Linked DNA regions of Homo sapiens. The protein of the gene in region 4 purifies or fractionates together with the protein of the main gene of each other region. This does not show direct contact. Each region holds a gene or a part of one and is shown on either strand. Other genes may lie near its edges.

What was found. Proteins that work in one complex are often made in the same cells at the same time.
Region 1: the proteins of TPM4 (region 4) and CAP1 fractionate together in Homo sapiens (co-fractionation; one large-scale study listed by BioGRID). This does not show direct contact.
Region 2: the proteins of TPM4 (region 4) and LANCL2 purify together in Homo sapiens (affinity purification with mass spectrometry; one large-scale study listed by BioGRID and IntAct). This does not show direct contact.
Region 3: the proteins of TPM4 (region 4) and COX5A fractionate together in Homo sapiens (co-fractionation; one large-scale study listed by BioGRID). This does not show direct contact.

Annotation. Positions count from the first base shown.
Region 1 is NC_000001.11:40,061,111-40,065,018, reverse strand, and holds part of CAP1 (adenylyl cyclase-associated protein 1), read right to left. Parts: intron 3,285-3,908; coding exon 3,207-3,284; intron 793-3,206; coding exon 649-792; intron 546-648; coding exon 460-545; intron 1-459. UniProt on the Homo sapiens protein: Directly regulates filament dynamics and has been implicated in a number of complex developmental and morphological processes, including mRNA localization and the establishment of cell polarity.
Region 2 is NC_000007.14:55,399,719-55,403,626, forward strand, and holds part of LANCL2 (lanC-like protein 2), read left to right. Parts: intron 1-238; coding exon 239-386; intron 387-1,455; coding exon 1,456-1,602; intron 1,603-3,908. UniProt on the Homo sapiens protein: Necessary for abscisic acid (ABA) binding on the cell membrane and activation of the ABA signaling pathway in granulocytes.
Region 3 is NC_000015.10:74,920,784-74,924,691, forward strand, and holds part of COX5A (cytochrome c oxidase subunit 5A, mitochondrial precursor), read right to left. Parts: intron 2,988-3,908; coding exon 2,874-2,987; 3' UTR 2,865-2,873; intron 1-2,864. UniProt on the Homo sapiens protein: Component of the cytochrome c oxidase, the last enzyme in the mitochondrial electron transport chain which drives oxidative phosphorylation.
Region 4 is NC_000019.10:16,100,345-16,103,760, reverse strand, and holds the end of TPM4 (tropomyosin alpha-4 chain), read right to left. Parts: intron 2,498-3,416; coding exon 2,415-2,497; 3' UTR 759-2,414; downstream 1-758. UniProt on the Homo sapiens protein: Binds to actin filaments in muscle and non-muscle cells. Plays a central role, in association with the troponin complex, in the calcium dependent regulation of vertebrate striated muscle contraction.

The DNA of each region.
Region 1 (3,908 bases), on a different chromosome or scaffold from region 4:
ATGCAGCTGTGAGACAATATCTGTAAAGCTCTCCAGAAAGCAGCCCTGAGATAAAACCAGCACAGTGGCTAAGGGCAGCCCTCAGTAACTCCAAAGTGCTACTCCAGCAAGTAACCAAATGGGTTTATCCTTTACCCCTTGAGAAAAAGCTGAACTTGGCTGGGCACAGTGGCTCACACCTGTAATCCCAGCACTTTGGGGAGACCAAGGCAGGAGAATCATTAGAGACCAGCCTGGGAAACAGTGAGACCTCATCTCTACGAAAAAATTAGAAAATTAGCCAGGCATGGTGGAGCGTGCCTGAAGTCCCAGCTACTTGGAGGACTGAGGTGGGAGGATTGTTTGAGCTGGGAGGTTGAGGCTGCAATGAGCTGTGATTGTGCCACTGTACTTCAGCCTGGGTGACAACGCAAGACACTGTCTCAGAAAAGAAAAAAAGAGAGAAAAGGCTGAACTTACACATCTTTGTACTCTTTGAGGACTCGGTTTGTATAAAACATGGCGGCATCATTCATTTCTTTCACATAAGGGCCAGGCTTGGGAGCCTAGAGAGAGACAAGCTGTCAGTGACTCAGGACCTCTCCAACTATATTGCCTTCCCTCTTAAAATCTATACCCACCCCCAGCCCTGGAATCTGCGCTGCTCACCATAGCCACCCAGCCCAGGGCCTGGATACTTTCGCTGACAGCTGACAGGTGATTAAACAACTTGCTGCCTCGGTTCTTCTCCCGAAAGGTTATCACTTCTTTGATCTGCTCTGAGATGGGTGCCAACAAATCGGAAAGCTTATTCTAGGAAAAGATACAAGAAAAGATTCAGGTTAACATCTTTCCACAAAGGTGTCTATGCCTTCTGATCCTGAAGGCAAGAATTCTCTATGGACTCTAGTGAGCACCCAAATAAACTGCATGAGTCCTGTCCTGATTCCTAAGGCTAAAATACTGCTCATCATCTCACTCTCCTCGTAGAGTTCCAACTCCTCAGGCTGCACCTGATGGTTCTTCATGATCAGGACCCATACTTCAGCTATACCACAGAACCTCCATTTCAGCCACCTGTCTCTTTTTTGTTCCACTCAGAGGACATACACTCAGGACATCATTCCTGTGCCTTACTCATGATGTTCTCTTTTTTTCCCATGAATCCAAATTTTCCTCATGCTTCATGAGGGCCCTCCAACCCAGCCACACCAGCCTCCTACAGCATTTGTTGTCAGCATAACCAATCTTGGCATTTTATCACTCACCAATACAAACTATTAATGGACCCATGTGAATATGTTTTACTTTCTCATTAATTCTTCAAAGACGAGCTCTTTTATCATCATGAAAGCCCCCAATGCATTGCCAGCCATATAGTAGCTGCTGTAAAGAACTGATGAATCAAATGCAATTAGGGGGCTTAGTCTGGGCATGGTGACCCACGCCTGTAATCCCAGCACTTTGGGAGGCCAAGGCAGGAGAACTGCTTGAGACCAGGAGTTCAAGACAGACTGAACAACACAGCACAACTTTGTCTCTACAAATAATAAAAAGAATTAGGGCCAGGCATGGTGGCTCACGCCTGTAATCCCAGCACTTTGGGAGGCCAAGGTGGGCAGATCGCTTGAGTCCAGGAGTTTAAGATCAGCCTGGGCAACATGGGGAAACCCCATCTCTATAAAAATACAAAAATCAGCTGGGCATGGTGGCGCATGCCTGTAGTCCCAGCTATTCAGGAGGCTGAGGTGGGAGAATCACTTGAGCCTGGGAGGTGGAGGTTTCAGTGAGCCGAGATCCTGCCACTGCACTCCAGCCTGGGCGACAGAGAGAAACTCCATCTCAGAAATAAATAAATAAATAAGTAAGTAAATAAGCAAGCCAGGCATGGTGGTGCACACTGTAGTCAAGGCTACTCAGGAGGCTGAGGTGGGAGGATCATTACACCTGGGAGGTCAAGGCTTCAGTGAGCTGTGATTGCACCACTACCCTCCAGTCTGGGTGACAAAACAACACCCTGTCTCAAAAAAAAAATTTTTTTTTAAACATAAATAAAATAAAAAACAATTAGGGGCTTAGCATTCAAGTAGGCACCTTGGCAAAATGGATGAATTTTGTTTGTGTTTGCACCCTTCCTCCAAAGCTCCATTTCCTGAACATCTCAATTCTCAGATCTTAACCATTCAGGACAGATTAAGAATTAAAATCTAATTCTACATATTAGAATTAGATGGCATCTATACACACACACACACACACACACACAATGTTTTTTGAGAGAAGGTCTTGCTCTGTCGCCCAGGCTGGAGTGCAGTGGTGTGTTCATGGCTCACTGCATCCTCAAACTTTCAGGCCCAAATCTTCCTCCCATTTCAGCCTCTCAAGTAGCTGGGACTATACGCATGCACCACCTTGCCTGGCTATTTTTATTTATTTTATTTTTTTAATTTTTAATAGAGACGAGGTCTTGCTATGTTGCCCAGGCTGGTCTCAAACTCCTGGCCTCAAGTGATCCTCCTGCCTCAGCCTCCCAAAGTGCTGGGATTACAGGAATGAGCCAGCACACTTAACCAGAATCTAATATATTTGACATTATCTTGCACTATTTTTATATTATCTAGGCATGCTGAGGGTCAAGGGTTTTAATACAGCATTTAGGACAACTTGCTTTATTATTCCTCTGTAACTAGGAAAACCAAATGCAAAAGAAGGAAACCTATATTCTTTGACTCCAAGAGAAATCTAAATTTTCTCTAATTCAACTTTTCACATCTTGCACCATAAAATTTTGAGGTGGGAGTAAAATTAAAGAGAGAGTCTCCCAACCAGTGAAGGATGAGGAGAGAAGCAATACTGTAGGAGTTTTAAGATCTCCACAGGAGCACTACTAAAGCCCATCCACAGTGAAGCAAGAGAATCATCTTTAAAGGGCTTTGGAGACACTATGATGAATGTGGACTCAGCAAAGAGGCAGGCAAGCAAAGTCCCAGGGATAACCACAGTCCTATGCAAAATGACAGAGAAAAAGCCAGTAGAGACCATTAAGTACCCAATAGTACCTTCCCATTAAGGCACTTGAAGTATGGCTCTACCTCTGGGACTTGGTATGAACATATATTATCAAAAGCCTAGTAGGTCTATTTTAAAATGTTATAATAGCTTGACATAAATCTCTCAACTCGTCCTGAGCATCAAACCAAAATGAAACCAGCTAGTAGTGAACTTACTTCTGCTGGCTGTTGACACTGAGAAGCTGTAACCAACAGAGCTCGCTCCAACTTCAAACCTGTGTGGACCATCTCCGCCTGCCAGAAAGAAGAATCAGCTATTGATGACACATTATAACTAGAGAAGTCTTGATAAGAATAACCTGAAACCTCTACTTCCATGTACTCTGATAGCAACCCAGGCACTTCATGTTATCCTCCTCATGTATTCCAGATTCCAGGGACTGAGAGCAGAATTACATACACTACTGTTCCTATTGGAACTCATCAGGGATATATATCCAGAGTTGGAAGTGAAGTTAATTGGATAATCACCTAGCTTACATGAAGTCATGTTAGCATCTTACACATGCATTGTGATACCGTGCACTGAAAAATCCTTCCTATTTCACATCAGCAAAATAAAACAAACAGCAACCAAAAAAACACCTTTCTTTTCTCAAAAATTGGAGACAGGAGTAAAGGCAAAGGCCTAAATTTCTGCTGAAAATTCTCAAGGTATTTACTCCTTTAGATTAAAGCTATCTCTCAAATGCCAGATACCATGACCCATTAATAAATAATTAAATCAATTTAGTGAGCTTAATGGAACAAAAGTATGAGTGCAGTGCACCAACTTCAAGTTATTTCCAAATAAAAAGTTAAAAAAAAAAAAAGTACAGCAGAAGTAGTATAAATATCATCTTGTGAAACTTTTATCTC
Region 2 (3,908 bases), on a different chromosome or scaffold from region 4:
AATAGATGTAAAGGTAGAAATTAACAGAAAGATGTTTTGTTTTTAATTTTGACATTCAAAAGGGGACTAGTAAACTGGAGACGTTTTTGTTGTGTTCTGGATTTGGGAGTATTTTTAAAAATAATTGTTTTAAATGTAAAATAAATAATAGGTAATTCCTAAAGCAACAGGGTTAGTGTTTCAGGAAGAAGTACTTTAGACTTCCACTGGGAAAAAATTAATTTTTCTTATTGGTTAGACTTTTGCAGCTCCAGAGATCGGTTGTCTGCCAAGAATCAGACCTTCCTGATGAGCTGCTTTATGGACGGGCAGGTTATCTGTATGCCTTACTGTACCTGAACACAGAGATAGGTCCAGGCACCGTGTGTGAGTCAGCTATTAAAGAGGTACTATGGGGTATGGGTAACTATGGGCGTCTCTACCATTCAAACCTATTTGCTAGCATTGAGTTGTATTAACAGCTGGACTTTACTTCTAGGTAGCATTACTTTTTTAAAGCAACTCATCAAAAGTAAGAAATAGTCCCTGCTTTTTTCTAGGAACATTAACAAAAAAAATCTGTACTCTCTTTCATCTTGTATTAATTTATCAGTTTTTACTGGAGCTAAACAGCAGCAGCTTCAGAAAGTTAGAATGTTTATTTATCTTTCGTGAGATGTCTCAGCTGGTAAGCATTTCAGGCTGGTATGAGTGGGGACCAGCTTCTTCTGTCTCATTCTGCCTTATCCTAGGGGCATACCCTTATTTGCAGGACCAAGGCTAGTTTAGCCCCTCAGCCTATGAAGGGAAAAGAGGAGGTGGAGGCAACGCAGCTTCCTTGTTAGGGACTCAGTCTCCAAGTTGCCCTCTTTACTTCTGCTCCCATCCCAGTGCCAGAACTTCATCAAGTGTCTGTGTTCAGCTGTCTCTAACTAGGGAGCCAGATGCCCAGCTAAAACTTGGAATACTTTCCCAAAAAGGATGAGAGGAGATAGACGTGAGGAAACAGTCATCCCAGACATGATATTCTGTTGATCTAACTGAAATCCTTCATGCCACAGCAGACCTCATATCATTAGCCTTTTATAAATAAAGCCAGTTCCTCCAGCCTTTCCTGATAGGTGTATGTGCTGCTCTTTTGGGAAAAATACTGCAGCTACGAAGCAACTAAGAAATCCAAAACAGTTTTATAAGAAGTTTTTCTAGATTTTTCGTTGACTTTTTATGCAAAGAATTTTTTATTTCTTAGACAGTATCTTTTCCTACTCTGACATTGGCTCCTGATTTCTTTTTGCCTGCATTTATTAATTTATAAAATAAATATAACTATATTAGCTGCTAACTGCTTAAAGACTTTTAGATTAAGGCTTCTGCCTCTCTCTCTATATATGTCATATATATATGACATACTGTTAATTAGACTACAACAGGGTACATATACAGTTTTAGATTTATGCTGTCTTGTTATCTCTGTAGGTAGTCAATGCTATTATTGAATCGGGTAAGACTTTGTCAAGGGAAGAAAGAAAAACGGAGCGCTGCCCGCTGTTGTACCAGTGGCACCGGAAGCAGTACGTTGGAGCAGCCCATGGCATGGCTGGAATTTACTATATGTTAATGCAGGTAGGTAAGAATACTCTTACACACTACAGTATATTTGATCAAACATGAAATGGGAAATGAATCCTGCATATAAACAAAGCAGTCTGGATTGAAATACCCTACTTTGAATCGCTGATGCGTAACTCTGCCACATAAACCACAGGCAGTGGATTTCTAAGAGTCCAGTGAGTTCCTGAGTACATTTGGTATGGAGTCTTTTTTTTTTTTTTTTTTTTTTTTTTCCAATTTTCTTTTTTTTTTTTTTTTGATCATTCTTGGGTGTTTCTCGCAGAGGGGGATTTGGCAGGGTCACAGGACAGTAGTGGAGGGAAGGTCAGCAGATAAGTGAACAAAGGTCTCTGGTTTTCCTAGGCAGAGGACCCTGCGGCCCTCTGCAGTGTTTGTGTCCCTGGGTACTTGAGATTAGGGAGTGGTGATGACTCTTAACGAGCATGCTGCCTTCAAGCATCTTGTTTAACAAAGCACATCTTGCACCACCCTTAATCCATTTAACCCTGAGTGGACACAGCACATGTTTCAGAGAGCACAGGGTTGGGGGTAAGGTCACAGATCAACAGGATCCCAAGGCAGAAGAATTTTTCTTAGTACAGAACAAAATGAAAAGTCTCCCATGTCTACCTCTTTCTACACAGACATGGCAACCATCCGATTTCTCAATCTTTTCCCCACCTTTCCCCCCTTTCTATTCCACAAAACCGCCATTGTCATCATGGCCCGTTCTCAATGAGCTGTTGAGTACACCTCCCAGACGGGGTGGTGGCCGGGCAGAGGGGCTCCTCACTTCCCAGTAGGGGCGGCCGGGCAGAGGCGCCCCTCACCTCCCGGACGGGGCGGCTGGCCGGGCAGAGGGGCTCCTCACTTCCCAGTAGGGGCGGCCAGGCAGAGGCGCCCCTCACCTCCCGGACGGGGCGGCTGGCCGGGCGGGGGGCTGACCCCCCCGCCTCCCTCCCGGACGGGGCGGCTGGCCGGGCGGGGGGCTGACCTCCCCGCCTCCCTCCCCGGACGGGGCGGCTGGCCGGGCAGAGGGGCTCCTTACTTCCCAGTAGGGGCGGCCAGGCAGAGGCGCCCCTCACCTCCCGGACGGGGCGGCTGGCCGGGCGGGGGGCTGACCCCACCACCTCCCTCCCGGACGGGGCGGCTGGCCGGGCAGAGGGGCTCCTCTCCTCCCAGTAGGGGCGGCCGGGCAGAGGCGCCCCCCACCTCCCGGATGGGGCGGCTTGCCGGGCGGGGGGCTGACCCCCCCACATCCTTCCCGGACGGGGCGGCTGGCCAGGCGGGGGATGACCCCCCCACCTCCCTCCCGGATGGGGCGGCTGGCTGGGCGGGGGGCTAACCCCCCCACCTCCCTTCCGGACGGGGCGGCTGGCCGGGCGGGGGGCTGACCCCCACCTCCCTCCCAGACGGGGTGGCTGCCGGGCGGAGACGCTCCTCACTTCTCAGACGGGGCGGTTGCCGGGCGGAGGGTCTCCTCACTTCTCAGACGGGGCGGCCGGGCAGAGACGCTCCTCACATCCCAGACGGGGCGGCAGGGCAGAGGCGCTCCCCACATCTCAGACGATGGGCGGCCTGGCAGAGACGCTCCTCACTTCCTAGATGGGATGGCGGCTGGGCAGAGATGCTCCTCACTTTCCAGACTGGGCAGCCAGGCAGAGAGGCTCCTCACATCCCAGACGATGGGCGGCCAGGCAGAGACGCTCCTCACTTCCCAGACGGGGTGGCGGCCGGGCAGAGGCTGCAATCTCGGCACTTTGGGGGGCCAAGGCAGGCAGCTGGGAGGTGGAGGTTGTAGCGAGCCGAGATCACGCCACTGCACTCCAGCCTGGGCACCATTGAACACTGAGTGAGTGAACGCGACTCCGTCTGCCATCCCGGCACCTCGGGAGGCCGAGGCTGGCGGATCACTCGCGGTTAGGAGCTGGAGACCAGCCTGGCCAACACAGCGAAACCCCGTCTCCACCAAAAAAATACGAAAACCAGTCAGGCATGGCGGCGCGCGCCTGCAATCGCAGGCACTCGGCAGGCTGAGGCAGGAGAATCAGGCAGGGAGGTTGCAGTGAGCCGAGATGGCAGCAGTACAGTCCAGCTTTGGCTCGGCATCAGGGGGAGACCGTGGAAAGAGAGGGAGAGGGAGAGGGAGAGGAGGGAGAGGGAGAGGAGGAGCCTTTCCAATTTTCTTTCGGTATGGAGTCTTAAAGCAGATTAGTTATCTGTTCCCCACACTTTTCTGGGTTTTTTTTGTTTGTTTGTTGTTTTTTTTTTTTTTTTTTTTGAGACAGAGTCTCACTCTGTCGCCCAGGCTGGAGTGC
Region 3 (3,908 bases), on a different chromosome or scaffold from region 4:
CCTGGGCAACACGGTGAAACCCCGTCTCCACTAAAATACAAAAAATTAGCCTGGTGTGGTGGCCCATGCCTGCAGTCCCAGCTACTCGGGAGGCTAAGGCACGAGAATCTCTTCAACCGGGAGGCGGAGGTTGGAGTGGGCCGAGATCGCTTCATTGCACTTCAGCATGGATGACAGAGCAAGACTCTGTCTCCCAACAAAAAAAAGAAAAAAAGAAAAAAAGTTAGTATAGCTAGAATATATCCTACATAAAAAAGATCTTCTGGACCCCTTGGAATAATACTTGATAAAATGAAAACTAAAACCATCTTTTAGGAGTTCATTATAGAATATGAACCACAGGGCTGGGCGCGGTGGCTCACGCCTGTAATCCCAGCACTTTGGGAGGCCGAGGCAGGCAGATCGCGAAGTCAGGAGATTTGAGACCATCCTGGCTAACACGGTGAAACCCCGTCTCTACTAAAAATACAAAAAATTAGCCGGGCATGGTGGCGGGTGCCTGTAGTCCCAGCTACTCGGGAGGCTGAGGCAGAAGAATGGCGTGAACCTGGAAAACGGAGCTTGCAGTGAGCCGAGATCATGCCACTGCACTCCAGCCTGGGTGACAGAGCCAGACTCCGTCTCAAAAAAAAAAAAAAAAAAAGAAAAAGAATATCAATCACAGGGCCAGACGCGGTGGCTCACACCTGTAAGCCCAGCACTTTGGGAGGCTGAGGCGGGTGGATCACCTGAGGTCAGGAGTTCAAGACCAGCCTGGCCAACATGGCGAAACCCGGTCTCTACTAAAAATACAAAAATGAACCGGGCATGGTGGTGGGCACTTGTAATCCCAGCTACTAGGGAGGCTGAGGCATGAGAATTGTTTGAACCCAACAGGCAGAGGTTACAGTGAGCAGAGGTCGTGCCACTGTACTCCAGCCTGGGCGACAGAGTGAGACTCCGTCTCAAAACAACAACAAAAAACAAACAAGAGCTTCAAAAGTATAACTAGGAAAATTTCCATTCTGAACAACTAGTTTTCTTTAAGTACTCACAGAAGTCAAAACCATTGCATATATTATAAAGATGAGCTACTTCAGGGAGGTTGTGCTGGTGAGGGGGTGGACAAAGATAAAATGAAAAGACCATTGCTTTTGGCTCACACCTGAAACCCAAATAATTTGGAAGGCCAAGGTGGAAGGATCACTTGAGCCCAGGAGTTCAAGAACAGCCTGGGCAACATAGTGAGACTCTGTCTCTATAACAAAATTAAAAATAAATAAATTAAACAAAAACAAACAAAAAGACCACTCCGTTAAAGCAAGCTTTAAAACGAGATCCCACCTGGGCGTGGTGGCTCATGCCTGTAATCCCAGCACTTTGGGAGGCTGAGGCGGGTGGATCACCTGAAATCAGGAGTTCAAGACCAGCCTGGCCAACATGGTGAAACCGTCTCTACTAAAAATACAAAAATTAGCCGGGCATGGTGGTGCATGCCTGTAATCTCAGCTACTTAGGAGGCTGAGGTACAAGAATCGGCTTGAACCCGGGAGGCGGAAGTTCAGTGAGCCGAGATCATGCCATTGCACTCCAGCCTAGGTGACAGAGTGAGACTCCGTCTCAAAAAAAAAAAAAAAAATCTTAAAAGTAGATTACAAAGTTTTCAGCATTTTCTGTTCAGTTTCTCAACAGGAAGACTGAATATAAAAATTCCTTGAATTCTGAATATTTTTCTTTCTATGTATGTATGTATTTAATTAACTAAAGGAGACAGGGTCTCACTATGTTGCTCAAGCCAGTCTCAAACTCCTGATACTCCTGAACTCAAGCAATCCTTCCACCTTAGCCTCCCAAAGTGCTGAGCTTACAGGCATGAGCCATTGCTGCCAGCCAAGTTGAGTCTTTTTTTTTTTTTTTTTTTGAGACAGAGTCTCACTCTGTCACCCAGGCTGGAGTACAGTGACACAGTCTCGGCTCACTGCAACCTCTGCCTCCTGGGTTCAAGTGATTCTCCCGCCTCAGCCTCCCGAGTAGCTGGGACTACAGGCACATGCCACCACACCCAGCTAATTTTTGTATTTTTAGTAGAGACAAGGTTTCACCATGCTGGTCTCGAACTCCTGACCTTGTGATCCACCCGCCTCGGCCTCCCAAAGTCCTGGGATTACAGGCGTGAGCCACTGTGCCCAGCCCAAATAGAAATACTTTAAACACACCAAAGCAAATGTGGCAACAATAAAAGTATCTGAAAATCTGGATATGTGTACACAGACTCACTATATTATCATCTATGCTACTGTTTATGCCTAGAATATTGTATGAAGATTTTTCTTTAATTAAGGTGGCTTTTATTTGTCTTTCTACCAGTAAGAAAATAATGATGCCGGGCGCGGTGGCTCAAGCCTGTAATCCCAGCACTTTGGGAGGCCAAGGCAGGTGGATCATGAGGTCAGGGGTTTGAGACCAGCCTGGCCGACAGGATGAAATCCCGTCTTTACTAAAAATACAAAAATTAGCCAGTTGTGGTGGCATGTGGCCTGTAGTCCCAGCTACTTGGGAGGCTGAGGCTTGAATCCAGGATGCGGAGGCTGCAGCGAGCCTAGATTGCACCACTGCACTCCAGCCTGGGCAACAGAATAAGACTCCATCTCAAAAAAAAAAAGACGAAAGAAAGAAAAGAAGGAAAGAAAGAAAATAATGACAACAACTAGAAATCATTTCAGTTCTTTAAATTTACCATTACTGGTATTCTCAAAATCTCTTCATGCTCACGGCCATTACCTCTAACAAGAACACTGAAAGGTCTTACTATAGCACACTGAAATGTCATCCACCCACACCTCTCTGGATTGTTTTCCTGCCTTCTTCAGTGGTTTGTCGCTTACCCATGCGGTTTACACTTTGTCAAGGCCCAGTTCCTCCGGAGTGGAGATTCCCAGTTCATTTAAAGTTGGTCTAAGTTCCTGGATGACATAGGGGTAGATTTCCTTATGAGGTCCTGCTTTGTCCTGATGGCAAAGAGAATATTCACATTTAACTCTCTCAAAAGCCATGTCTATTAATTCATGAAATGAACTTAAAAATGCCTTTAATTACTTATGCAGAGGCAGGTAGGACAGAATAATACAGGTGATCAGCTGGGCATGGTGGCTCACACCTGTAATCCCAGCACTTTGGGAGGCTGAGGCGGGCGGATCACTTGAGGTCAGGAGTTCGAGACCAGCCTGGACAACATGGTGAAATCCCGTCTCTACTAAAAATACAAAAATCAGCCAGGTGTAGTGGCACATGCCTGTAATCTCAGCTACTCGGGAGGCTGAGGCAGGAGAATCGGCTTGAACCCGGGAAGCGGAGGTTGCAGTGAGCCAAGATCACGCCACTGCACTCCAGCCTGGGTGACAGAACAAGATTCTATCTCAAAAAACGAAACAAAACAAAACAAAACAGGTCATCTACTTTTAAGTTAACACATTTGTTCGGTAAGTAGGGCAACTTGCTGGGTGCCGTGGCTCATGCCTGTAATTCCAGCACTTTGGGAGGCCAAGGCGGGTGGATCACAAGGTCAGGAGTTCGAGACCATCCTGACCAACATGGTGAAACCCCGTCTCTACTAAAAATACAAAAATTTGCTGGGTGTGGTGGCACGCCCCTGTAATCCCAGCTACTCGGGAATGCTTGAACTAGGGAGGCGGAGGTTGCAGTGAGCTGAGATCATGACACTACACTCCAGCCTAGGGGACAGAGCGAGACTCTGTCTCAAAAAAATAATAATAATTAAATAAAAATAAAGAGGGCAACTTATATATGTACTGTTCAAGGTAGGCTTTTGAAATACCTTGAGAATAACTGCAATTGGACTAAATCCAGAACATCTTAAAGTCTAGAATTACTGGAAAAGAAGGTAGTGATGACAGAATTTTGTGAAGGCA
Region 4 (3,416 bases):
TCTGCCTCCTGGGCTCAAGCGATCCTTCTTCCTCAGCCTCTCGAGTAGCTGGGACTTATAGGCATGTGCCACCACACCCCACTAGTTTGTGTGTGTGTGTTTGAGACAGAGTCCCGCTCTGTCACCGGGGCTGGAGTGCAGTGGCGTGATCTCGGCTCACTGCAACCTCCGCCTCCCGGGTAGCTGGGATTATAGGTGTGCACCACCATGCCCAGCTCATTTTTGTGTTTTTAGTAGAGATGGGGTTTCACAATGTTGGCCAGGCTGGTCCTGAACTCCTGGCCCTAAGCGGTCCGCCAGCCTCGGCCTCCCAAAGTGCTGGGATTACAGGTGTAATTTGGCCACTGTACCTGGCCAAATTTTTGTTATTGTTTGTAGACGGGGTCTCACTATGGTGCCCATGCTGGTCTGCTTTCCTTTGTATGTGTAACTCAGCCTTAGCTAGGCAGATCTTCCTAACTCAGGCAACAGAGATGATTTTCCCTGCTTTTATCTCTTAAAATCCTACTCATTCTTCACAGCCTGGCTTAGGCAGCGTAGGGGATAAGGAAGGCCAGGAGTTTTCGAGTGACCGAGGCTGAGTGCTCTCGCCTGCAATGAGACTGTAATATCCTTGTATCATGAAGTCACAGTATAAAGCAAATAGATAACCTTGTCTACATTCTTGGCTCTGGTTATTTTCCCTTTCCATCCCTTTAACATTTGTTGAACCAAAATGCTCTGTGTACCCCCACACATTCTAAAATTCACGCAAATTGTAGTTTATGTAAAAATTTATTTGACCAAAATGTAGAAAAAGTGATACTATTACATATGATACAGTTGCAAGAATCTAAAGTGTGGATTTTATTCCATTGCACAATTTGCTAGTGTATTTCCTGGGTAGTGTGGTGCTGAATAAATAGGAGTAGGGTGGTGGGGTGGGGTGGGTAAGGGATTCAGATAAGCCAGAAGCAGGGTGATTTTTAGTTGGAATTGTAAACTTTAGTCAGCCCCCACACGCTGCTGGGGAATGTGGAATGTTCTAGCTCTGAGATGTTAACTGAGAAAAGAGAAGTCAAACAAAGCCGATACGTGCAGCCCTGTCTACAGAATCCTTCATTATCCAGTTTAATCAGGAGTTTCTTGGTCTTTTATTAACTTGGTCCCAAAGAAGGAATTCAAGTCCTAGATAAGTAAATCCTCAATTTGCTGTTCCCTGAAGTATGGAAATGAAGTTGGGCCAGTTTTTAATCTCTGCTGCCAGAGAGGCCCTTTCTGCTAATAGATAAAAACTCTTTTGCTCAACTTAGTAATGACTTGTGGTCTTTTGGATATGGCTGACCTGAATTGGACTGAACTCCACCATATTCCTGCTGAGTGGGTCATTACTGGAATGAGACATTTGCTCTTCAGAGAACAACTTTATTTTTATTTTTTCTTGAGATGGAGTCTCACTCTGTCGACCAGGCTGGAGCGCTGTGGTGCGATATCGGCTCACTGCAGTCTCCACTTCCTGGGTTCAAGCGATCCTCCTGCCTCAGCCTCCCGAGTAGCTGGGACTACAGGCAGGCGTCACCATAATTTTTGTATTTTTAGTAGAGACATGGTTTCGCCATGTTGGCTGGGCTGGTCTCGAACTCCTGACCTCAAGTGATCTGTCCTGGCCTCCCAAAGTGTTGGGATTACAGGCGAAAGCCAACGCTCCCGGCCAGGGAACAACTTTAGAATGAAGGAAATATGCAAAAGAACATCACATCAAGGATCAATTAATTACCATCTATTAATTACTATATGTGGGTAATTATGACTATTTCCCAAGCATTCTACGTTGACTGCTTGAGAAGATGTTTGTCCTGCATGGTGGAGAGTGGAGAAGGGCCAGGATTCTTAGGTTGATCTATCTGTGGGTTATGACTTCCCACAATAGCCACCCCCGGCCCCCACCAGTCCTTTTATTGGCTCTGGATGGAAAATCCCTACCCATGTGATGGTCCCTGGTCTCTCCTATAGTTTGACCAACAGTTGACCCAAAAGGTTATGGTCTTCAGCGTTTTAATTATATCCACGACTAGATACTGGGGTCTGTATTCTTCAAAGTGTGGGGCTGCCTATTCTCCCAGGAACCAAATGGCCTCCGTCTTAAGAAAGTATGCTTACTAGGAAATACCCTGCCTACCTTAGGAATAAATGCTACTTAAGGAAAAAATAAGAGAGCTGAAAAAGCTGGTGCCATTTGAAAAAAAAAGGGAAGGAATGAGATTTAACTGGTGCTCAAAGCTTCTCCGATACAAAATATTTGGTCATGTATTCATAATTTGCTTGACATTTCCAGCAAAGCGAAGATGGCAATAACAAAAGGAACTTCTTACAAGAGAAGAGAAAGACCCACGGAGCTCCAGAGTTTCTGTTGGAACAAGACTCTTCTGTTTTGCTTATATACAGTTAAGTTCGTTTAGTGTCTGATCCAGTGTCTGATGTAAGCCCACGTTCTCTTCTTTGGCCTGGGCAAGTTTCTCTGGTGAGGATTAAGAGTATGGGGAAAGATAAATTAATAAGCGTCTTTGTTAAATGAAAGAAAAAAAAAGATTTGTTTTTTTTTCTTCTTCTTGAGACAGGGTCTCATTCTGTCACCCAGGCTGGAGTGCAGTGGCGCGATCTTGGCTCACTGCAACCTTCACCTGCCAGGCTCAAGCAATTCTCCTGCCTCAGCCTCCCGAGTAGCTGGGATTACAGACGCGTGCCACCACCACCCGGCTAATTTTTGTATTTTTAGTAGAGATGGGGTTTCACCATGTTAGCCAGGCTGGTCTCGAGCTCTTGACCTCAAGTGATCCACCCACCTTGGCCTCCTAAAGTGCTGGGATTACAGGTGTGAGCCACCATGCCCAGCACCCCCCCAAAGATTTCTAAACCTGAAACTGCCAGGGTGAAAGTCACAAGAGAGAAAGTACTTTTTTTTTGAGACAGGGTCTCACTCTGTTGTCCAGGCTGAAGTGCAGTGGCGTAATCACGAATCACCGTAGCCTTGACCTCCCTGGGCTCAGGTGATCCTCCCACCTCAGCCTCCCGCATAGCTGGGACTGCAGGTGCATGCCACCACCTGGCCAATTTTTGCATTTTTTCTAGAGACAGGGTCTCACCATGTTACCCAGGCTGGTCTTGAGCTCCTGGGCTCAAGGAACCCATCTGCTCAGCCTCCCAAAGTGCTGGGAATACAGGTGGGTTATAGCCACCATGCCTGTCCAGTACTTTGTATTTTTAATTACAGCAGAACATCACAGAATACTAAGGAACAAGCACCAAATTTGGGAGTCACAGTTGTAAGATAAAATGCAGGGCGCCCAGTTAAATTGAATTTCAGATAAACCACAAATAATATTTTAGTGTAAGTATATCCCAAATGTTGCATGAGATGTACTTATGCAAGAGATATA